6 separate regions of the Homo sapiens genome follow, and regions 1, 2, 3, 4 and 5 are each reported to be linked to region 6. The links are microRNA targets in miRTarBase. Many come from high-throughput screens and were not tested one by one. Region 6 holds a microRNA gene; each other region holds the end of a gene's coding sequence.

Region 1 (4,090 bases), not on the chromosome of region 6:
TGTTCTTTGTAGCAGTCCTTAGACATTTGCTGATACTTTTACATATCGCAGACAATAGCTGCAATTGAAATCATCACTTGATTAGCTGATAATAGTCATTCTCCAAGATTTAGCAAATTTCTGTGCAGGCTAAACAGATATAATAGCAGCCTCTATCCTCAAACTTTCAGCTTTTTTTTTTTTTTTTTTTTTTTTTTTTTGAGACAGGGTCTCCCTTTGTTGTCCAAACTGGAGTGCAGTGGCTATTCATGGGCATGATTAGAGCATACTGCAGTCTTGAACTCAGGAGCTCAAGCTATTCTCCCAGCTCAGTTTACCGAATAGCTGGAACCATAGGCCCACCACACCACACCCAGCTAATCTTTCAGGATTTTTGATGATGACCTCTCCAATTTTCCTGGAGATGTAGCATTGTTGTGGTTTACTATCCTGGCTTCTACTTGGCACTTGTAATGGTCAGGGAAGCTAAGTGGAAATTCTGTCAATAGTCAAGTATGTCTATCTCAAATATACACGTGGGAACAAAAAATAAGCACAGGGTAGGTCCAGGGACTTACTGAGCTGCCTGAGAAATGACAACCTGGGGTTCAAATTCCATTTATGACCTGACCTAAAAGGAAGCCAATTGTCAAAGAAATGTAGAGTCACAGCGACATCAGAGTATCAATGGTGAATTTGGAGCTGACAGCACAGTCACAGACTTAAGTCTCATAGTTCACCAATTCTCTTGTTGTTTAATATGTATTTAACCCATCCATTGACTTTTTAATTTCAATTTTTCTTTATAACTATATATTTCGGACAATTCTCAATTATCTGCCCAATTTTTACTTTACTTTAAATGTTAATAGAGACAGGATCTTACTATGTTGCCCAGGCTGGAGTGCAGTGGCTACTTACAAGTACCCATAACAGCACACTACAGCCTTGAATTTCTGGCCTCAAGTAATCCTCCTGCTTCAGCCTCCCAAATAGCTAGGATTATAGGCACATGCCACAGCACCCAGCTGCCCAATTTTTATACAACACCTTGCCATTTTACCATTTTTGTTACTCTTTTACTTCATTACACATATTAAACAGTCATTTCAAATTCTATATCTGATAACCCTGGATCTGCCATCTCTGTAGAGCTTATTTTACAATTTGTTTCTGGCATCTTTTTTGGCAGAATAGGTTAGTTTCTTGGCTCCATCTCTGAAGACCAGACTTCCACTTCCATCTCCCAATCAGAATCATGTTTCATGGTAAGCTCTAACTGCAGGCTGTAAGCCTCCATAGTTGAGGAAGATGAGAGTTCTGGGGATGACTGTTCAAAGAGTACCAGCATGCAACAGAGAAAGGCAAACGAGTTCTAAGTTGCTGCTTATGGGGTTGGTGGCAAAAGACAAGAAGGTTACAGAACTCTGTTTTGGGGCAGGAGTTATGCAAGGGAACCCAGACCTATCTATACTCTTCTGGCTCTTCTATCTCCAAAATGTAACAGGAACCCTTACTCTCAGGAAGTGGACTTTAGTAGTGATGCCCTGTGATTGCTCTCCAAATAAACCTCAGTCACTGTGTTGCAGGCATAAAACACAGGGGATCCTGAAGGCAAGGCCCTTTGTTGTAGAACTACAGCTGCCACCTATATCTTGCTCTTCAGGCAACTTCACACACTTAAGAGTAGCAATCAGCCAACAAATTCGAAATACATAAAGTAAGATTCAAGCTGACACAGGGAAAGAAAAAATATCACTTAGTCAAAATTTATTTCAAGGCCTGAAAACATTCAGACTAATCAAAATGGTACTACTGTAACTTCTTATAATACATAATATAAAAGTTTTTGAAAGATATAGACACAATTAACCCCTAAACAACACACTATCTGATTCTCAAAAGCAATGGCTATTTAACAAGATGTAAAAGGACAATAACATATCAAAGAACTTTCACACACCTAAAGATAGCATTTAGCAGCAAGTTAGTCAGACAAAACAAACACAAATATTTTCACATTTCCTATGTTTGTTTTTAACTTTACTTCATAAAGCCACTGATAATTGAGGTTTCTTTCAAGTATAAGATTTCTAAAATTAAAAACTGTTTTTGACATATTTTTATAAAGAAATAAAAAGCAAAACGCAATCCAACTATTTATATGAGTCCCTCTTCTCCAACAGCTTTAGATGTTTTTCTGAGTACTTTTTACACAGAATATTTTTATTAAAATCAGTTCTAATTCATTTATGCAGATTAGGGGAAAATGATTCATAATAAATTAACTTTAAAATTACCTTCTATCTGCTTCTACCTCTATCCCCCCATCACCACCAAATCTGTTGCTACAGTGAACTGTAGCAATGTACTGTTTGAGGGGGCCCAAAGCATCTGTAATCTTAATTTCCCACATATTAGTTAGTAGGAGGAAAAATCCACAGTATGAAGGCTATTTAACTAAAACTTTATGCTTTTCCCTCAAGCTGTAAGTACTCTTTAGCATTAAATTACATCGTGCATATACAACTACACCCATTTAGATTTGCCTTGGAATATAATTTCAAGGCCTTAAATATTAAAAATAATTTTATAACTATTTCATAGTTTAATTGGCTCTTAAATAGTTTTGCTAGGGAGGAAACATTTTGTGTTCTTTAAGAAATTGATATGTGTAAATGTGTTCACTTAAATCTTGAGAAAACCTAAGGATGAAGTCTGTTGTTTTGTTTTTCCTAAAAAAGGAAAAAAGAACCAAAGAAAAATGTTGAAGAACAAGAATATTTACCATTAAAAAGAAGAAACATTATCCAACAAAAAGGAGACATATAGATTTGAAAACACTTATTTTACTGTCTTCAACAACAACAACAAACAGATAGGCAGGGGAAGTCCAGAGGACTCAGAATTGAAGCAGCTCTATACAATAATGAAGGTGGTACAATGATGTGACTGCAAAGAAAATGACTAAAACAAAACTTTACAAACATCTTCATGTTTGTAATGTATTAATGCACAAAATATCAAAAATAGAAAGTCTGAGTTTCTTCCCCGCAGGTTTATGATAAACTATCAACCTTCTATTTAATGCATTTCCTTTTTTTTTATTTATAGAGATGGAGTCTCGCTATGTTGCCCAGGCTGGTCTTGAACTCATGAGCTCAAGCAATCCTCCCACCTCGGCCTCCCAAAGTGCTGGGATTACCGGTGTGAGCCACTGCACTTGGCCTTAATGCATTTACTTTTATAAGCCTTCTCTGTTTAGAAGTACACACTACACAAGTACATACATGCTGGCATTTTACCATGAAAATTTTAGTTTTCATCTCAAACTAGTGACTTGCCTTTTTACCCATACTTATACACATGTAATACCTTTCTAGTGGTACATTTTAATCAATATATATTTTTTAAATCTTATTTTTAACTCAATCTTTTTAGTGCTATGATATGATGGGCTTAATTTAATAGTTGAAGCATGATATGATAACAACATTGTACGGTTTAAACTAATTCACAACTGTAGTAAAGTGTTTGATTTTCAGTATATAACCAAGATGATGCTGAACAGTAATAAACACAGAAACACTAGAAAACAGTGAATGAATAAATAATACAATTTTTCATCAGTGGCCATTCATTATTTTGCTTTTAGAAACCTGGAAGAAATTGTCTTCTTTGATTTTCAAATGTTCTGGTAACTCTAGTCGTTTCTTAGCTTCTTCAATATCACCTTGAATTGCTGAAATAAGTGACTCTGCAGAGAGAATATACCAGGTAAAAATGATGAAAAACCATTAACATACTTTTTACTACTACTCTGTTTAGCCAATCCTAAAAACTCACAGGCTGGCAGTATCTCTGCACAGGGTAGATACCCAATAAATGTTTGTTCCATCACTCCTTCCAGGCCTAAGTCAATGGTACACAAAAGATATGTCCCTAGGCCGGGGGCAGTGGCTCATGCCTGTAATCCCAGCACTTTGGGAAGCTGAGGCGGGCAGATCACCTGAAGTCCGGAGTTCGAGACCAGCCTGGCCAGCATGGTGAAACCTGACTCTACTAAAACTACAAAAATTAGCGGGGTGTGATGGTGGGTGCCTGTAATCCC
Region 2 (4,090 bases), not on the chromosome of region 6:
TTGAGTCATATGAATATAGTTTGGCTCCACCGCGAGGGGTGGAGTGCAGACTGCTAGAGGAGGAGAATGCCATGCTCAGGAAGCGGGTAGAGGAGTTAAAGAAGCAGGTCAGCAACCTGCTGGCCACCAATGAGGTACTACTGGAACAAAATGCTCAGTTCCGCAATCAGGCCAAGGTCATAACCCTGAGCTCCACTGCACCAGCGACTGAGCAGACTCTGGCCCCCACTGTGGGCACTGTTGCCACTTTTAACCATGGCATTGCCCAGACTCACACTACTCTCAGCAGCCAGGCTCTACAGCCTCGTCCAGTGTCCCAGCAAGAACTGGTGGCCCCTGCTGGAGCTCCAGCTGCTCCCCCAACTAATGCTGCACCTCCTGCTGCTCCACCACCCCCACCCCCACACTTGACCCCAGAGATCACGCCACTGTCAGCTGCCCTGGCTCAAACAATTGCCCAGGGAATGGCACCTCCACCTGTCTCCATGGCTCCTGTGGCTGTATCTGTGGCTCCTGTGGCCCCTGTGGCTGTATCGATGGCCCAACCCTTGGCAGGAATCACAATGAGCCACACCACCACTCCCATGGTGACTTACCCTATCGCTTCCCAGAGCATGCGCATCACGGCCATGCCACACTGATGGGGCTAATGGACACTCCCCTGGTATAGCCTCGCAGGGCTGGGGTCAGGGGGCCCTTGCCCACTCACCTAGCCTTCCCCATCCCTGTCTGAAGGGCTCCCTTGAGAACTAGGACAAGAGACTACAAGGAGTATGTCCTGAGGAGGGGTTGGGATGGTGTGTTTTCTCTCACCTCCCTTTTATGAGGGTCCTCTTGTCCATCTTCAAGCCTCACAGTGGGGGCTTGCAGAGGAGTGCAGACTGAAGCCAGCAGAGAGGAAGGACTGACTGAGGGGCTGTGTCCTCTTATGGGAATTTGGGAACATCCCTCGTCTTGTCCTCTCTTCTGCACAGCACAGGTTCCAGCACTGGTTTTAGAAGAAAAAAATACCCTGCCCAGAGGGAAAGCCAGGAAAGATTGGGAAGTGGGTGGTCAGGAGAGAAGGCCTGATAGGAGCCTTCAGACAATTTGGGTCCTAGTTGCTTGGGTTGGACAATACAGGAATTGCTTCTGGGCCCTGGGAAAGCTGGGACCATAGTGCTCCAGCCCAAAGACTAGGGGAGCATTCATTACCCTAGTTTGACCTGAAAATCCATAGGGCAGGGCCCACTACTTTCCAAAGAAATAAAAGAACAATTATTTTTAACAAATGGAGGCAGTGAAAACTTGCTTAGCTATTCTGTGTGGAAGATGGGAGCAGTAAATAGATCTCATGCCAAAATGGGATAAAGACCCCAGCCTCACATAGCTTTGGTAAGATGGATAGAAGCCAGTGAAGAAGGGTAGGGACCCAGAACAAGACCAAATGGGGCTTTGGGGAAGGCACTTTATGGGGTAAAAGCTTTGGAGCCACCCAGTCTAGTTTTAAAAATAGTCCCATCTGTTTCTGGTCTCTGTCTGTATGTGCTATTCCCAGGTTGCCTCAGTAACCAGGGCTCCTAGGGTCATTTAGCAGGGCAGGCAGTAAGGAGAGTGTATTTGCTGAAATGCGGATGGGATGTTACATAGTTGACAGATCCTTATTCAAACAGAGCAGGACAGGTGGAGTTGATGGCCATTGAGTTGATGGCAGTTGCCGCTCAGTTGATGGCAGTTAATGTCCCTCCTACCCCACCCCTTCAGTGGCCAGTTCCTGAAGCCTTCAAGGCTTGGGAGGTCTGGGAAAAGAGAGTCCTTCTAGGGACACAAGCCTCAGGGTCCATCCCTTTCCTCTGTCTCCACATAGGACCAGAAGTTTTAAATCTACTTAAGTCAGTAAGGCCAGGGGCCCCAATAGTCAAACCTCAGTTCCTCCTCAGCTCACGGCTGATGTAGGGAAAACAACTCAGGTGTCTAGTCTAATGGGACAGTAGATTTGGGGGTAGAGAGTGATCCTGGATTGTGTTCCCCCTCATCATGTCTCCTGCTACCTCTTGCTTTCTTGTCTGGTTGATCACTCAGGTCACATCTGGGATTGGAGATGGTGGGCTAGGTCAAGGCCAGTCATTAAAAAAAAAAGCCTAAAGACTAAAAGTGGGCTAACATTGTGGATTTTAGAAACAACACATTGATAAGCTTAATGTTTTTTGGGACACAATTTTTTTTTTTTTTTTTGAGATGGAGTCTTGCCCAGTCACCAGACCGGAGTGCAGTGGCGCAATCTCGGTTCACTGTAACCTGCGCCTCCTGGGTTCAAGCGATTCTCTTGCGTCAGCCTCCCGAGTAGCTGAGACTACAGGCGCCCGCCACCACGCCCGGCTAATTTTTTTATTTTTAGTAGAGACGGGGTTTCATCGTGTTGGCCAGAATGGTCTCTATCTCTCGTGATCCGCCCGCCTCAGCCTCCCAAAGTGCTGGGATTACAGGCATGAACCACCGTGCCCGGCAATTCTAGACTATTAAAAGAGATGGTTTAAGAGCATTTAGAGAAGAATGTAACCATAGATACCAACATGAATTCTCAGTCAAATCCTGACTGACTTTATTTCCTCCTTGCCAGGTTATCTCCAAAGAGGTAGATTTGGGAAATTTTAGACATTGTATGTCTTGTATGTATTTACTCCAGCTGAAGACCACCAAGAATACACCTGGTAATTGAGCAAGTTGGGTTTAATGCTCATTGCAGTGAGGGGGAGGGCTCACCATTGGGGATAACGTGGTGTGTCTCAGCATGAGGGTGTTAGGAACGACTTAGAGAACTTAGACTTTGGTTAAGTGATTTTGGGGAAGATTCAAGAAAGTGGGTGTTCTTTTGGATTGGGTGCTGTTAAGGGAATCCAGGATAATTGGGTAGCTTGTCTAGAAGAAGGGCAGACAAGTGAACCTAAGCACAGTCGATGATGAAGTCACTCACTAGCTGGGAAAGGGGATGTTTGCTGTTTTGTGGTTTGCACACTGACCTTGTTTTGTGCTTAAACAAAATTGTGTAGTGATTTTGTTTTTTGTCTCACTTCATCGCAGTCACTGAGTGACCTTGTCTGATGCTGGTGTTTTGTGAGATTGTTTGTGTCCAAGAGAACTCATTGGCTACCTGTGAGCACCAGGTCAGCCCTAACAGCTCTGAAGCCTGGCTGTGTCAGGCCAGTTCCCAGATTACAGGAGCTACTTTCCTCTCTCTCACCTGCTAAGTCATCACAGATAAGAGGAAAATTACGGGTCAGTTAATCGTAGCATTTTTTCCATGCAAATGGCTCTGGTTAAAAAATAATGAGAAAAAAATAGTAGCATTTGGTAGAATCAAACTGAACACTTGTACTTAGTGTTGGTTAGCGCATTTATGTTAGAGAAATCTCTGTTCTCTAGTGATAAGCCCAAGGGCTATGTTTTATTGTAAAAAGAAAAAACCCAACTCGGGTAAACATGTAAAAAACCCATTTATCAACAGTAACACAGGAAGAGCTAAATAATATTCAAAGTGTCTGTAACTTGAATTGACTAAAACACTGGAGCACTCTCACACTAAAAAATTGCTTAGATCTTGAACTAGTTTGAGGAACAATGTTAGAGATTTATATTAGCAATAATTCACATGAGAACAAACTGGGACTTCCAGTTGGCTGCAAAAAAATAGAATCTTAGCCCTCAAGATGTCCATTTATAAATATTTATTAAGAGCCTGCTATGTTCTAGGCATCTTTCTAGGAGCTCCATAAGGGTAGTAGAACCTTGGTAATAGATTACAAATACAGCAGTTCTATGTTCTGCCTAAGTGTAACCACTTAGTAGTGTGTTGTTCTAAATGTAATTTTTAAAGAGGGCCATTGACAAACCAGTGTGTTGCTAGAAAAAAAAGGCTGGCAAGAGAAAGCTTCAAATAGAAGTCTTCAAATATTTGAAGGGCTGCCCAGTGGAGGAAGATCCTGTTTGCTACACAGGAAGTAAAAAGGGATTTCTAGAATAATGGCTAACTTTTTTTTTTTTTTTTTTTTTGAGACGGAGTCTAGCTGTGTGGCCCAGGCTTCAGTGCAGTGGCACGATCTCTGCTCACTGC
Region 3 (4,090 bases), not on the chromosome of region 6:
TAAGATCCCCCCCCCACCTTTTTTTTTTTTTTTTAAACTTGAGACAGGGTATCATACTGTTGCCTAGGCTAGAATGGAGTGGCGCCATCACAGCTCGCTGCAGCCTCAACCTCTTGGGCTCAAGCAATCCTCCTGCCTCAGCCTCCCTGAGTAGCTAAGACTACAGGCACGTGCCACCACACTTGGCTAATTTTTGTATTTTTTGCAGAGATGGTGTCCCACTTTGTTGCCCAGGCTGGTTTTGAACTCTTGGGCTCAAGCAATCCTCCTGCCTTGGCCTACCAAAGTGTTTTTTTAATTTTTCTTTTTAAAATTAGCCAGTTATGATGATGCACACCTGTAGTCCCAGCTACTTGGGAGGCTGAGGTGGGAGGATCCCTTGAGCCCTAGAGTTGGAGGCTGCAGTGAGCTATGATCCTGCCACTGCACTCCAGCCTGGGGGTCAGAGAAAGACCCTGCCTCTGAAAAAAAAAAGGGCTGGGCATGGTGGCTCATGCCTGTAATCCCAGCACTTTGGGAGGCCAAGGCGGGAGGATGGCTTTGAAGCCAGGAGTTTGAGACCAGCCCAGGCAAGACCCCATCTCTATAAAAATAATTTAAAAAAGAAAAAAAAATATGAAAGAAACAGCTCAATAAAGTTGAGAAAGTATGTTTACAGATGCATGTAGAAAGTTATTTAATAAAAATATTTCACCATTTAAACTTGGATTCCCCAGAGTGTCATTCAAAATACTGAAATGGAAAGATCAACAAAATTAATGAATAAAGAAAGTTTATTGGAGATTATTAAAGAAAAATGATAAAATAAGGCAAGTCCTAGATCAGATTTAAATACAATATTTAGAAAGATGGCTATATAATTTTAGCTAGGAAAATCAGTAAAAGGGAATATCCTTAAAAGTGGGAGGGGTTCATATAACCTTTTAAAATAGCAAGTTGAGGTGTAAAAGCATCACCAACAATAGTATGTACCTTAATCTTTACACAATTGGACAGTGAGGAGCAAAGTGGGAGATTCTACCAATGCCACTTACAGAACAGATTTTCAAGTTAATAAGTCATAAAATCCTAATGTAGTCATAGGCTAGGATGGTGACGACAATCTGCAATTACTGGTCAGAGTGAAGCGAAGTGACAGGTCAGATTTTTCAGCATATCAAGTTACTACTTAGGTATGCTTACAAAACTTTGTTAAATAAAGTTGGGTATTGTTAGTATACCCTTTACTAAATGGTGAGGATAGCTGCCAAAATAATCAAAAGGCTAATTATGTGTTAACTCTCATTTATTTTGGATTGCAGACATACTCTTGCCCTTTATCTATCTACACAATTCCTTATTACCAGCAGCTGGAATCCAGTTGTGCAATTATGGCAACTGGACAGACCTGAGCCGTCAGTTATGAGATAGATGACCTTTTAATTGTACTAGCAAACAATTTATAGACTGGAAGATTGTTTTTCGGGAATACCAGTTTAACTGAGACTTTAATTATGGTCCAAGAGCTTTTATGAGAAATTCAATCAAAAATTTTGCTTTAGAAAAATTTTATAGGTATATGTTACTAATACTGAGAATGGTTGAATTAAAAGAAATTGAGACTGAACAGTACATTTCCACTGGAAACATAAAGCTCTGAATGCTGTGACTGAGTGAACAAAGGAATAGTTCTAAATTTTCTTTTGCAACATACATAACAAAAAGATTTCAAACTGAAAGACAACAGGTTTAACTGAATGACAGATTTAACTACATAGTTTTCATTCTATAAATAAATAACTTGTGAAATATCCCTGAAGTCAGTGGACAAATGGGGAAACCATTATTTTTGTCATATTCTACAATTCTGAGAACTAGGATTAGAAATTCTAGGACTTTAAATCTTTGTGCTACAGAGAACAATATTATCCACTAAAATCAGGAAGTGGCTTCCTGAAGGGTATTCATTCTCTGAGGTCATACATTTTTTTTTTCTTTATTCAAAACACTTAGTAAAGGAAAAGGACACAAGGAAATTCTGATTAAAGTCTTCTCCTGCTCTGTTTGCAATTATACATGCTTTCAAAGTCATTTGAAAGTAAGACCATTTCCTTTGGCAGGTATCTTGTATAAAGTAACTTTACAACATATGTTTCTTGAACAGAAACTTTACACCACTGTCATTATGTTACCTATAGAGACAAAACTACTAACACAAGTAATATGGGCTTACAATTATAACACAAACCTGTGAGAGGGCATGATAAAATTAAATTTTGATTGCCTTCTTTTATTATTATCACTACTACTGTCTGCTCACAAATTCTGTGGCCAGAGTCCATTTCAAATCCTTCTAAGAGTCCACTTCATGAGTTAAACATATACATATAGAACAAAGCAGGTATACTGTAATTTTTAAAAGTAAATCTGTTTTACATAGTACAGCTGGAGGCAGTTTAATATAATCAAAAGTTATAGCTCTAAAAAATATGATAGTAGAATATTAAACCTCAGGTTACGTTAGGTTTGTTAACTCTTGATTTGCTTTGAGTAATTTTTTTCTTCAAAAGCCACATTCCAAGAAGATGCCTTAAGTATCAATGAGCTATATTTGAAGTACATCAACTCTGTTTAAAGCTGTCCAACAATAAGGACACAAGCAGTAAAATATCTGAAGCATGAAACATGTAATGTTGATGACTAATGTTCTAGATCATCAGGAATAAGATTAACGAAGAGCAAAGTAAATCTAAAACAAGGAAAGGGAAGATACATTTATTAAAAATAAAAATAGTACACAATCTCTGATAACAAAAAAAGCATTTAGGGTCAAAAGACATCCAACATACATTGTAACAATGCACACATATTAATTAAAAAAAAGACCCATGAAATAATTTTTAAAAAACTTTCAAAAGGAAAAAACTATTTTGGCTTCCTTCTGCTGAAATTCGCCTATAAACATACCACGCCAGCTAGACCAGCATTCCCTTTCACGTGGTCTGTACAACATAGTACTGCACAATGTGAGCAATTACTTTGATGAACACATTGTTTTTGAATAAAATTGTTGGTTCTGTATGGATGATCCAGACATAAATCCATGGTTCCATTTCACAAAAATATTCATAGGCTGGAAGAGCAGTGACAACCATTTTCCAAAATCTTCAGTTTTAACAAAAGGCGCAGAATAAACTACTAAATCTAGATGTTTTCACATTATTTTGCATGAGTGTCAAATACTATGTAAAAATTAACGTAAAATCTTAAGTTGGCCAAAACTAGTGTCTCTAAAGATCAAAATTCTTCACTCTTTTAGCATGGCTGATAAATCTTTTCTGCCTTTGTCACTAATGCTTGTCAAACCAAAGAACTTTGCAAAAGAATATGCACTGCTGAAGGAAGACAGTACCAAAAATACCATATTGAACTTCGGTCTTAAGACACACACAGTTCCTGTTGGATACTGGACTGTGAAAGTTTATTATCTTCAGTCTTTTCATGTCCTGGAGCATGGCAAGTAGTCTTCCGCTTAAATAACCGAAGACTCAATCGAAGTAATTCATTGTCTACCATTGGAGCACTCGTGTAAGCTTGTTTTATGGTGCCCTATTTGAAGAAAACAAAAACAAACTTTAAAAAAGATGTACATTATTAGTAGGAAAGATGGGCAGGTTAACCTCTACCCAAAATATCAAAGTTATAAGAGTATTTCATTTTGGATATTAAATTAGCTTTATTGGATTTCAAAGCAAAATTAGAAAATGTGTTTGGGCTCAATGAATCTTTGAAAAGAAACTTTTAGAGGGCACCTAGTTTAACCTCTTGCTTAAAGTAGGAATCCTCTCAACAATTTCTGACAGGTAATCAACCGGTTTTTACTTTATCATTTCCAATGACAAAACAAACAAAAAACACACTGCACGTTCTGTTGTTGAATGGCACTATTTCTTCCATGTGATGGAATAAAAGCTCTTCTATGGTGCTACACTGTAATTCAATCTTACCTTTACTTGACAATCCTTCAGTTCTATGAAGGTAAGTGCCATGAGTTCCTTCCTCACATAGTTTTTCCTTCTGTAAGCCAAACATTCTATTCTATACTCCTTAC
Region 4 (4,090 bases), not on the chromosome of region 6:
TACCATTCTGCATATTGTACATGTATCTCCCTCAGTCGTCTCTGTTACCACTCAGTTCCCTGAGACTACTTCCAGCTGTCTCAGAGACATTAATGATTTTAGACTAATTTCTAAAGACCTCTTTCATTTTGATTTTATTATATTTTTGTTACTAAAAAACTTTTTTAGTGGTTCAGAAGCATTAACAAGTCAGAAAAGACAAGTGGAATTTCCTCAGTGGACCAGCAGAGAAAAGACCTAATAAGGAAAAAAAGAGAGATCAGTATTATTTGTAACTAAAGTGCCAGTCCTTCTGCTAGACGCTTTTCATGTAACTACATTTAATCTGCACAATAACTGTATGAAGTAAACAGGATTATCACATACTTACAGCTGAGGAAGCAAAGTCTGAAAGCCAGAAAGTCTGACTAATTTATCTAAGATCACACCACAGCCAGGTAGTAGAACTGGGGTCAGATCAGTAGTGTCTGCCTGGTTTTGAAGCCTGATTTGATTTCTCCATTATAAAATACATTGCTGCTGGTCTCAACTAGTTTTTCTGTTACATGTTTTAAACACAATGGATGTTTCTTTGTATCTTCTTCACCAGGCTTTTCTGATGTGGATCACACCTATGCTCAAAGAACTCAGCTCTTTGACACCTTAGTAAATTTCTTTCCTGACAGCATGACTCCTCCTAAAGGCAACCTGGTAGACCTCATCACACTGTAACTGAAGAGTCACTGGACACAGAAATGGAAAACAGGAGTCGATTTTCCGTCTTTTGGATTGCAGCTCCACTGACTGACAGTAAAGCTGCAGTGATTGAGGACTGCACCAGAGTTCTGAAGGGATCTTAACCATCACAAGTTTTTACCCTCTTCCTTCATGCCTGACCTCAACCCCGCTCTCCTCATCCTATTCCTAAATTAGGCTAATAAAGTGAAATTGGTATACTTTCCAGTTAAATATATATATATATATATTTTTTCTTACTTTATCTTTTAAGAATTAATGAGTATAAAAGAAAAATTAGGCAGTTTACCCTTTTCAGATTTTTATTTCTTTTTTTTTTAATTGGGGGAAATAAGCACTATTAACAGATTCAGCACTACAAGTATTTTGAATGTTGTTGCTGTTGGTCATTTGGCCTGCCTTTTCCCTTCCTATTTCACTTTGCCTCCCATCACACAACTGCGTGTAAATGGTGTCACTTGTTCACCTCTTTACTTCATTCTTAACAAGTGTATAGTTCTCTAGGACAGTTGATGTATGTTAAGGTGATATCTGTGTCTGTATTGACTTGTCTTGTGTTACATTAAACAGTAGGCAGAACTGAGGTCTCAAGTTTGCACTCTTGGCCATAGAACTAAAAATGAAACCTGAGATTGACCCAAGCACCTATCTGAGATTGGTATATAATATTTCTATAATGATATATTTTATAGTAGATATTACAATAGCATCTGACTTTGAGTCACAGAAACCTTAAACTGAGGAGACAATAGTTCAGAACCTTTTTAAGAGCCATTCTAAAAGTGACCAGCAGGAGGGATCTAGTAGTGAATAATATCTTAATAGCAATTTTAGGAGAAAATGACTCTTTCGTCCAGAAGAGCTCTGCAGAACCAGGGCTCCCGTTTATCTTGTGCTATCTCTGTAGTATTTTCATTTGAGAGAGGAGGCTGAGTTTCCAGAGCTTTGCTTTCATTTATTTTTATACACATTGTCTCTCTATATCTGCTTGTGGATATTGTTATTTTGAAGAGAAATGGTTTGTGGTTGTCCAGTGGTATACAACTGACAGGCATTTCATTAAGCACATAGACCAGACTTTGTGAATGGTTCAGATATTTTTTCATTAAAAAACAAGGTATGGCAGATGGACTTTTCCATGGGTCAAATTTTTTGTGTGAGAGATAGAGGTACATGTCTTCTGATGATGTGCTGTGGAATGCAATGTGGGAAACCTACATCTGGCTAGTGCTTACATTTGCTCAAAAAGCATGTTGTATGAAGCTGACTGCCACCATGCTAAAGCAGATTCATATTAAGAAGTGTCGGTCGATCCAGTGGCTCTTAAGAGTGAATAGCTTTATGGAATCAAGTATGTCCCTGAGTAGCAAGATTAGGCCTCACCAAAGAAGAAATTAACCTGCACTTTCAAAAAGTACCATGTATAGGAATGAAACATTGAGGTCCCACTTTATTCTGTCTTTAGTACATGGTTTTACTTATTTTGGGGATGGATAGAAATATATTTTTGCTAGTTCTAGGCTTGAATCATGGGCTCCTTGGCTTTCCTAGCATCCCAAAGCAGTCAACAGTGATTTCTTAAGCAATTTGATCTGTACCTTTACTTGTGAAAGGTATGCTATATAATTCAGCAAGTACCAACTTGTGTAGCTGCAGAATAACCAAGTGGCTATCCAGTCAAGTAAATACAGTTTGCTTACATACTTCAACAGTTTCATAAAACGATTCCCCTGAGTGACACAAGAACATAAAATGTTAATATCACTAATATAGCCTGTTAAATCTTTTGTGGAGACAGGTGCAAATCAGAAGATTGACAAGGAAGAACTTGAGCTTGCTAAATAAGACTTCCTAAATTTAAAAGCTCTAGTTTTGCTTAGTGTGAATTCTGGCACTTTAAAAAGATTAAGCAAGTGAAATTCTGCTGCCCTCCACCATTTATTTTTACAGTGCTTTGTAATTTTTTTCATCAGTTCCTTAAATGTTATTTGGAGGAAACTAAGTTCTTGACCTCAGTAATTTTATTTTTGTTTTTCCCTAAATGTTTCCCTACTAGTCTTTTTGGAAAACATGTTTGTTTTAATTTCATCTTCCCTCACTTTATTTAGGTAGAATTTTTCCCCCTTCATTTCTGAAATTTTTTGCTCACCGCCATGTTTAAATGGGGTTGAATCATAGCGAGCCATTTGCTCTTGCCAAAGTGAGATAGATGTACTGAGGAGATAATTGAAAAGTCAGACTCTGTACTGTGGGGCTTTAATCGGAGCACTGCTGGAAATGATTGCAGAGAATGTAGTGCTTCATATATCCATGACCAAGATTGACATGTTGCTCACAACATGTCACAATTTAGTGAGGAGCTACATGTATTTCCAAGAATTCCAGCATAGATTATAATTTAAATAATCGAATTTGGTATTTAGGTACATTGTTTATATAGCCAAGTGTATATGCTTTACTACCTAACAATTATTCTAGCCTAGGTGAATCCCTAATTGAAACACCTGGCTAACACTTTAGACACATAAATTAAGTGGGATACAGTTTTCTCATTTGTATTATCTCCAGCTTCAACCTCATTTATCCTTTTTCCTAGTATAATACATTGTTTTCAACCAGAAATTAAAGTAGATATCCAACATTATTTTCAGTGCTTGTACTTCATGAGAAATAATCTGATTTTCAAGACACCTCTTAAGTGCATTTGCATTTTATTTTGGTAATGGCAGAGACCTCATGTGGCCAGTTTGATTGATTGAAGAATGTATCACTCTTATTCAAGCAAAGGAATTCAGACTTAAATGCCTACCTCTGTGCTGAAGCTGACAGACAGTATTAACTCTTATCAAGGCCATCTTTTAGACCTGATTTTCATTTATATGAAAACAGACCTGTCCATGTCTAATAAGTAAAAACTGATAGAATACATTAAAAAGTCACTGGTTTATCATAGAAAAGTTTGATGGGTTTAGAGCTCAGTGATTTAAGCTTGTAAAACTGCATTCTTGGGCAAAATATTTATATTGTATATAAATGGTTGGCAGCTTATTCCAGTTGATCTCTTCACATCTGCCTTAAAAGTGCTATGTAGAGATACATTAACAGAGTTATAATAAAACAGTGTTTTAAAATCTAGCCTATAAACAAAAACTAGTTTGAGGCACCCAAGCATTTAGTGAGAGATTGAGAATGATGCTTAATGGATCAAAAAAGCAATTAGGAGTATGTTCCTGATTTTATTCTCTAAATTATACTCAATTTCATGGTAATTACATGAAGAAGTTACCTGCAATTATTCTTAACACTACATGGAATTCACTGGGTAATTGTGGGTCATTTATTTCCTGAAAGTCAC
Region 5 (4,090 bases), not on the chromosome of region 6:
TCAGACCCAGGGGTCTAGTCCTGCAGCCCCTCCTCCCTCAGACCCAGGATTCCTGGGACCCAGCCCCTCCTCCCTCAGATCCAGGAGTCTAGTCCTCCAGCTCCTCCTCCCTCAGACCCAGGATTCCCGGGCCCCAGTACCTCCTCCCTCAGACCCAGGACTCCAGGCCCCCAGCCCCTCCTTCCTGGACCCAGGACTCCAGGCCCCCAGCCCCTCCTTCCTGATCCAGCAGTCCAGGCCCCAGCCCCTTCTTCCTGGACCCAGGAGTTGAAGCCTCCATCGACTCCCCCTCAACTTTGAGACTGTAGAGTCAGGTCCCTAAGTCCACCCCAGGGGCTGGAAACCTGGAGTTCAGGGCCCAGACTTTGGGGTCCGGGAGCTGATGGCCCCTCTCTCCCGGCTCCGCCCGCAGACTCTGGCTCCTCCGACTACACCCGGGGGAACCTAGTCCGCCTGGGGCTGGCCGGGCTGGTCCTCATCTCCCTGGGCGCGCTGGTCACTTTTGACTGGCGCAGTCAGAACCGCGCTCCTGCTGGTATCCGCCCCTGAGCCCCAGGAGCACTGCAGCCCGAGACTTCCAACCTGAGTGGCGGAGAAGCTGGGACCCTGGGCTGGACTGTCCTTTCCTGCAGCCCCACAGTCCTGCTGGCTGAGCTCCGCGGAACGGTCCTTAGACCCCGCTGTGCCCTGTGCTGTAGCTTCTTTCCAGGCCTTTCCCAAGGAGTAGCTGAAAGGAAGACGCGATTAGTGGTTAAGACTTCCAAGCCAGAAGACAGAGGGTTCGAATCCCAGCACTGCCGTCTACTCACTGTAGTAGTAGCAGCTACAGAAAGGTAGTAGTGAGACGTGAAGCCAGCTGGACTTCCTGGGTTGAATGGGGACCTGGAGAACTTTTCTGTCTTACAAGAGGATTGTAAAATGGACCAATCAGCACTCTGTAAGATGGACCAATCAGCGCTCTGTAAAATGGACCAATCAGCAGGACACGGGCGGGGACAATAAGGGAATAAAAGCTGGCGAGCGCGGCACCCCACCAGAGTCTGCTTCCACGTTGTGGGAGCTTTGTTCTCTTGCTCTACACAATAAATCTTGCTGCTGCTAACTCTTTAGGTCCGTGCCATCTTTAAGCGCTGTAACACTCACCACGAAGGTCCCTGGCTCCATTCTTAAAGTCAGCGAGACCACAAACCCACAGGAAGGAACCAACTCTGGACACGGTAGCAGCATTCAGAAAGCGCCCTTCCCCAACTCTCTCTTGCCTTGACGGTAAAATGGATGCACTGATAAAACCCACTTCATAGGATTGTTGTAGGAGTCAGTGGGTAATACACATAAAACATTTAAAGCAGTAACTGGCCCGTAGTAAGTGTTCAATAAATGTTAGCTACCCTGTAACACCGATTTCTACCAGACTCAGTGCCGAAAGGAAGGTCTCACCTTTTTGCCATCAAGCATAATCAAGCACGACTTTTTCTTTCTTTCTTTCTTTCTTTTTTTTGAGAGAAGATCTCACTCCACCCAGGCTGGAGTGCAGTGGCGTGATCTCGGTTCACTGCAACATCCGCCTCCCGGGTTCAAGTGATTCTCGTGCCTCAGTCTCCTGAGTAGCTGGGATTACAGGTGTGCGCCATCACGCCCAGCTAATTTTTGTATTTTTAGTAGAGATGGAGTTTTGCCAAATTGGCCAGGGTGGTCTCGAACTCCTGACCTCAAGTGATCCACCTGCCTCGGCCTCCCGAATAGCTGGGATTACAGGTGCGTACCACCATGTCCGGCTAATGTTTGTATTTTTAGTAGAGACGGGGTTTCACCATGTTGACCAGACTGGTCTTGAACTCCTGACCTCAAGTGATCCGCCCGCCTCAAGAACTGAATTTTGAAGTCTAATTAGCCACCTGGGGGCGCTAACGTGTTGAAAAGACGGGAGGAGAGACTGAGCGGGTCTTCCGGGGTTTGATCTCAGTGCCAGAGGGGCCTTGGTAGAACATATGTGGGACAACCTCCCCGGCATATGTGGCTGTGGGAAATAATAACAATTTTAAAAAAGGAATAAGCCGGGGGTGCTGGCTCACACCTGTGATCCTAGCACTTTGGGAGGCTGAGGCAGGTGGATCACGAAGTCAGAAGTTCGAGACCAGCCTGGACAACATGGTAAAACCCCGTCTCTACTAAAAATACAAAAATTAGCCGGGCATGGTGGCGGGCGCCTGTAATCCCAGCTACTCGGGAGGCTGAGGCAGGAGAATTGCTTGAACCCAGGAGGCGGAGGTTGTAGTGAGCCGAGATTGCATCACTGCACACTCCAGCCTGGGTGACAGAGCAAAACTCCGTCTCAAAAAAAAAAAAAAAAAAAAAAGAATAAAGAAGAGACGCAGGTTATAAGGAAGGCACCAGACCTGGATGAGGCTGTGATGTCATCAAATCCAGTCTTCCCACTTTATAAATGGGAAAATGGTGGAAAGAGAGGTGATATTAAGTTTACCTAAACATGTACAGGAAGTCAGTGGCACATCAGGGAGTCTTTTTTTTTCCTTTTTCCCTCTTTTTTTATTTTATTTTATTTTATTTTATTTTTTTTGAGGTGGACTTTCGCTCTTGTTGCCCAGGCTGGAGTGCAATGGCGCCATCTCGGCTCACCACAACCTCCGCCTCCCAGGTTCAAGTGATTCTCCTGCCTCAGCCTCCCGAGTAGCTGGGATTACAGGTGTGAGCCACCACACCTGGCTAATTTTGTATTTTGAGTAGAAACAGGGTTTCTCTGTGTAGGTCAGGCTGGCCTCGAACTCCCAAACTCAGGTGATCCGCCCGCCTCAGCCTCCCAAAGTGCTGGGATTACAGGCATGAGCCACCGTGCCCGGCCCTCTTTTTTTTAAAATGTATTTCCACCCAAAGCAGAGAAAAAGAAGTCTTGGCCGAGTTTGTACTTCAACTTAACTCCATGTATTCATCCATTCAATCACTCCTTCATTCACCATTCACTCATTCATGTCTAGCATTGATTCTCATCCTTATTCATTTCTATTGAGCATCTCTTTTTCCTTTGCTTTCATTTGTACATTTGTCTATTTCATTTGTCCTTATCCATCATGCATTCATTCATATTTCCATCCATTTACCCATCCATTTCTTCATTAACCAGTTTTTAATCCACTGAACTATTTATTCATTCAATATCCATCTATCTACCTGTGCATTTATCTATCCAATAAGCTTGAGATTTTTTTTCTTTTTGAGATGGAGTCTTGCTCTGTTTCCCAGGTTGGAGTGCAGTGTTGTGATCTCAGCTCACTACAATCTCCACCTCCCGGGTTCAAACGATTCTCCTGCCTCAGCCTCCCAAGTAGCTGGGATTACAGGCACCTGCCACCATGCCCGGCTAATTTTGTGTTTTTAGTAGAGATGGGGTTTCACCATGTTGGCCAGGCTGTTCTCGAACGCTTGACCTAAAGTGATCCATCTGCCCACCTTGGTCTCCCTTTAAAGTGCTGGGATTACAAGCGTGAGCCACTGCACCCAGCTGAGATTTCTTCATAGCAGTTTACCAGTGACCAGTGTTCAATGAATGCTTATTGAGTGAGTTGTAGTCACAATGCTTATTTCATTTTCTACCACTGAACATCTTTTCATACTGGTCATTTTGCTGGGTGATCCACATAGGTTATTTCTGATCTTTATCAACAGCCCCCAAGTCACACAGAAGTGCTTAACTTGGGACTTGTCTGTGTGGTTAGACTGCTGGGTCTTTTCCCCCTGTTCCTGCCTCTTAAAGCAATGACAACACTGCCATCACCACGCCTGGCCAATTTATTATTACTATTATTATTATTATTTTTTTTTGAGATGGAGTCTCGCTCTGTTGCCAGGCTGTAGTGCAATGACGCGATCTCGGCTCACTGCAACCTCCGCCTCCTGGGTTCAAGCGATTCTCCTGCCTCGGCCTCCCGAGTAGCTGGGATTACAGGCGTGTGCCACCACCACGCCCAGCTAACTTTTGTATTTTTAGTAGAGATGGGGTTTCACCATGTTGGCCAGGATGGTCTCGATCTATTGACCTCGTGATCCACCCGCCTCGGCCTCCCAAAGTGCTGGA
Region 6 (4,090 bases):
CAAAGAGGTAGTTCCACTTACCTAAGGCTAACCCTCCACCTGCATGTGTTCTAGAGCCATAAATTTCACCCTTCCAGCTTCACCTGCATCATCTTTCAAGATCATCTTCCATCTATTATCATCTCTCTCTTTCTCACATCTACAATGACTCCCTTCTCAATTCCTTCTGCCCCATGGTCTGCAAACACACTCAATTTTTTTCTCATGTTAAATGATTCACTGTAAGGCGCTGGATAAGTGGTTTTAACTTGTATTCTGGTTGTCACATCTACAATCAGAAAAGCTTCTCACAAAATAATGATTAAGTACAATAAATAAGATAAAGAAAATATGAACCTGGTGAGAGGTGAACAGGACGGTGGAGGATTACCTGTCAGTGCAGGTAAGGGGATAGCTGGAGTAAAGTTGAAAGGGGAAAACTTTAAATATCAGCCACAGGAGCAAACCTCAGACTGTGAGGATGAGGTTTCTGTTCAGACAATGAGCACTCTGGTCCAACCCAGGGAGCAATTAGCAGCAATTACAGTAGCAGCAACAGCCATGCAACATCAGCAAGTAGCTAAGACCAAAATGCAGGCATAGAAATGAAGTATTTCATAGAAAACAGAGTAGCAAATATGACATATGAGGCACTTGTGCTGCTACTCCCCCTTCTCCGACCCTCAGCAGACATCACTAAATAGTTATAAATGTCTTTCACACTGAGATAAGACCTGGTTTCAGAATCTTGTTATAAAACATAATCAGGGCAGGCATTATCAATCAATTGGAGATGGTACTTGAGATGAAGTGTATTTGCTATCATTGCACTACACAGAAAAGTCCTCAACAAAAGAATTAGAAGACAGGAATAAGCTTCAGGAGTAAGCATTCTGAAGAGAGCTTGGACGTTGTTGGCAACTGGCGGGGACAAGCTGAGCCCATGGAGATCACAGAGCAGGCGCCCAATTAATGTCTGTTGATGATTCATTTTTTCATTCAACAAACATTTAATGAGGCCTACAATGTGCACCGGATTAGGCACTGTGAATACAAAGATGAGTAAGGCACTGTCCTTGCCCTTAAGGAATTTAAAGTCTGGTAGACGAGAGCCATAGACACGGACAATGATAATACAACCTGCTAAGTGCTAGGACACTTAGCAGGTTGTATTATATCCATCCGAGTAGGATTTCTTCAGAGGAGCACCACTCCAGGTTGCTGCTGGATCCATGAAGTCCTCCCAGGCACCAGGGTCTGCTGTTGTTTTTGTCACGTGCTGGGTGTCCCAAGATCTAACAATAATAGCTGTAATTAATGTATAGAGTGCCTATGACAAACACTTTACAAATATCTTCATGGAAACTCTGAAAATTAATAGTTATATTAGAGGAAGAAACTGAAGTTCAACAAGTTTAAGTCACACAGCCAGCAAGCAGTTGAATTAGGTTTCAAATCCAGTTTTGACAAAGTCTAATGCATTTTTCTGTTTTCAGGATAACCTTTATGCAGGTGTAATACAACAACTTTTCAACAGCTTTCTATTTGGAACTAAAAGCAAAGGCAATAGATTAGTCACTAGATCATGGAGTGATTAATTTGGTTTCCCACTCTACCTGGCAGAGAAATAAAAGGTGAAATGACCTCACACTTACATACCATTGAAAACCTTCAAGTCAGTTACTGTTTTTCTTTCTCAACCCTAACATCGTCACTGATCATTCAAAATATAAGTACCTCTAGTCAAATCTCTTCTTTTAATACTTGTCATAGTCAACACCATTATCAGCAACAACAGTTGACACAGCATTTAGCTGTATATTCCAGGCCTGTTCTAAGCAATTTACATAATTAGTCCCTTTAAGTACTTTTTACCCCCATCATTGAAAATAAATATTATTCCTATTTTACATAAGAGAAAACAGAGTCCTGGGGAAGTGAAGAATCATGCTCAAGACCACATTGCTAAGTGTGAGAGCAGATTTGAGCCCAGGCTACCTGGTCCCAAGACCCAAACTCTCACTTTACATAGCTCTGCTGCACTGCTCAGGGCCTCCTTTCCCAACTCTTGATGGCAAGTTACACAAGGCCCCCTGAAAAACCCAGTCCTACTTACATAAAATCTCATCACTAACCATTCTGGTCATAGAAAGCCATTCTCTAAATCCCAAATATCAATACTCAGAGCCTTAATTGGAAAATTTCCCGAAGAACATTGAGTTTAGAATATACCTTTGCAAAAAGAGAAAATAAACACTCGATATGTTTAGGTTTTTAATTATTGAATTTTTTTTTTACTTGCAGATATAGTCATAAACGTTTTAAGATCCATAAGCAAACTAAAGCAATTATGCCAATAATGACTAAGGCCACTGCTTCCTCAATTGAGTCTTTGATATAAAAGCCTTCACTTTTGGTTAATTACAAAAAAAAAAAAAAAAAAAAAAAAAAAAACCGTGGGAGATATGTGACAGTGAGAGTAGGCCTGCTACTGATGAGAAGGACCAGCAACTTAGCAACACCATAAAATGTCTGCTGCAATTCAGGTGTCTAGGTGTCTCCCTGAGAATCAACATTTCATATACAGCTGTTCCCAGAAAACAATCTTGCACAATCTGTACAGTCAAGTTATGATCTAAAAGGAGTTAATTGCAACATTCATCCAAAGAATATGACAGTATTTTTCATCAAGGTCTTTTTCTATAAGTTTTTCTATAACTTTTCCTATAAGTTCTATTATGTCTATACAGTCATGTGCTGCCTAACAATGTTTAGGACAATGATGAACCTCATATATGACAGTTGTCCCACAGTTGTCCCACCACAAAATCATATCATATTTTTACTGTAGCTTTTCTATGTTTATATATGTTTAGGTACACAAATACTTACCATTCTGTTATAATTGCCTACAGTATTCAGTACAGTCATATGCTGTACAGGTTTGTAGCCTAGGTGTGTAATAGGCTATACCATTTAGAGAGGTTTGTGTTAATATACTCTATGAAGTTCACATGACAAAATCGCCTAACAATACACTTCTCAGAACATATCCCCATTGCTAAGCAATGCATGACTAAATTTTTATAACTTCCTAAGAGGTTATCCCCTCTTCGCCACTCCCACTCCTTTCAGCCCTACATCATTTCTCATCTTAGCCACCACAGTATCCTTCTAACTCATCTCCCTGTCCAGATTTGAAAACATTCCTGAACACACCCCACACTACTGCCAGTGATCATCTAAAAGCATCCCTTTCTGAAAACACTTATAATGAAATCCAAATCCCATGGCATACCATATAAAGTTCTATTCCTGGCCTACATTTCCAACCTAATTTAGAGAACTATTTGTAGTTCCCCAAACTCATCATACTACTTCCAATGTCCATGCTTTTGCTTGGAAAGCCTTTCCCTGTTTTTCACCTAGTCAAAAGGTGACTTTACTTCTTTAAAGACTCAACTCATATACCAGGTACTCTGAGCTCTGTCATCTCCAGACTCTGTAAAATGATTTCTCTTTGAACTCCAGAGTATCTTATACATACCTCCATTGTAGAGCATACCATATTGTTGTAATTATATGTGTACATAGATGTTGATCTCTCTCACTAGACTGAGAACTCCTTGAGGACGGGGATGGTGTCTAATTCATCTCCATATCCCCACTACCCAGCACAGTGCCTGGCAGCTCAAATGACAGCAGAGAGGAGAGATGCTGAATATGCAGGAGTGAGAATAAAGCAATGTTCTTGAGTAGTGGTACAATACAAATATGCTGAATGAATTGAAGCTATAGAAAAACATTTTGGGGCTCAATGTTGTAAAGAGGTCTCAAAAGAAGGGACAAGCTAACTCAAGGAGGAGTCCCCAGTTACCAAGTAAACTTACTCAGAAGTTAAAAGACCATTTGTTGGGTATGTTATCCAGGGACTTGAACTGGGGTTAGTTTAAAATAATCTATTTGGGATAGGAGACTTTTAAGGTCCTCCCATACTGGAGCTTCTAAATCTATGATCAGTGCCACAGTCAAGAGAGCCATCATTCTGAGAGCCTATGTCACAGAGTGAATGGTGACTCCCACAGTTGTGGACAAAGGCTAAAAACAGATC

The links. Region 6 holds the annotated microRNA hsa-miR-374b-3p (CUUAGCAGGUUGUAUUAUCAUU, at 1,106-1,127, opposite strand). A microRNA usually pairs through its seed, bases 2 to 8, with sites in the 3' UTR of a target mRNA and lowers its output. Matches are read on the target gene's strand: a 7mer-m8 pairs with bases 2 to 8, a 7mer-A1 pairs with bases 2 to 7 and ends in A, and an 8mer does both.
Region 1: miRTarBase lists RFK as a target of hsa-miR-374b-3p. Seed matches in the 3' UTR shown: 7mer-A1 at 2,478-2,484 and 8mer at 1,955-1,962.
Region 2: miRTarBase lists ZC3H10 as a target of hsa-miR-374b-3p. Seed matches in the 3' UTR shown: 7mer-m8 at 3,221-3,227.
Region 3: miRTarBase lists ZC3H13 as a target of hsa-miR-374b-3p. Seed matches in the 3' UTR shown: 7mer-A1 at 3,294-3,300.
Region 4: the mRNA of MKLN1 is a reported target of hsa-miR-374b-3p. Seed matches in the 3' UTR shown: 7mer-A1 at 2,012-2,018 and 7mer-A1 at 2,571-2,577.
Region 5: the mRNA of OSCAR is a reported target of hsa-miR-374b-3p. Seed matches in the 3' UTR shown: 7mer-m8 at 1,096-1,102.

The regions. Positions count from the first base shown.
Region 1 is chr9:76,383,794-76,387,883 of GRCh38, forward strand. It overlaps RFK (riboflavin kinase), which reads right to left. Exons shown (of 4, transcript NM_018339.6): 4 at 1,733-3,736. The coding sequence ends at 3,606. Among named protein-coding and RNA genes, the nearest start is that of RFK, 8.6 kb to the right of the region's middle.
Region 2 is chr12:56,121,227-56,125,316 of GRCh38, forward strand. ZC3H10 (zinc finger CCCH-type containing 10) reads left to right here. Exons shown (of 3, transcript NM_032786.3): 3 at 1-4,090. The coding sequence ends at 641. Among named protein-coding and RNA genes, the nearest start is that of ESYT1, 5.0 kb to the right of the region's middle. RefSeq lists an enhancer at 1-926.
Region 3 is chr13:45,953,710-45,957,799 of GRCh38, forward strand. ZC3H13 (zinc finger CCCH-type containing 13) reads right to left here. Exons shown (of 19, transcript NM_001330564.2): 19 at 756-3,588. The coding sequence ends at 3,418. Among named protein-coding and RNA genes, the nearest start is that of ZC3H13, 97 kb to the right of the region's middle.
Region 4 is chr7:131,487,018-131,491,107 of GRCh38, forward strand. It overlaps MKLN1 (muskelin 1), which reads left to right. Exons shown (of 18, transcript NM_013255.5): 18 at 590-4,090. The coding sequence ends at 711. Among named protein-coding and RNA genes, the nearest start is that of PODXL, 68 kb to the right of the region's middle.
Region 5 is chr19:54,091,680-54,095,769 of GRCh38, reverse strand. It overlaps OSCAR (osteoclast associated Ig-like receptor), which reads left to right. Exons shown (of 5, transcript NM_133169.6): 5 at 413-1,102. The coding sequence ends at 549. Among named protein-coding and RNA genes, the nearest start is that of OSCAR, 7.1 kb to the left of the region's middle.
Region 6 is chrX:74,217,452-74,221,541 of GRCh38, forward strand. MIR374B (microRNA 374b) reads right to left here and starts at 1,167; the gene lies at 1,096-1,167. All of the region lies in intron 5 of FTX (FTX transcript, XIST regulator), which reads right to left. It overlaps MIR421 (microRNA 421), which reads right to left and starts at 1,010; the gene lies at 926-1,010. It overlaps MIR374C (microRNA 374c), which reads left to right and starts at 1,098; the gene lies at 1,098-1,167.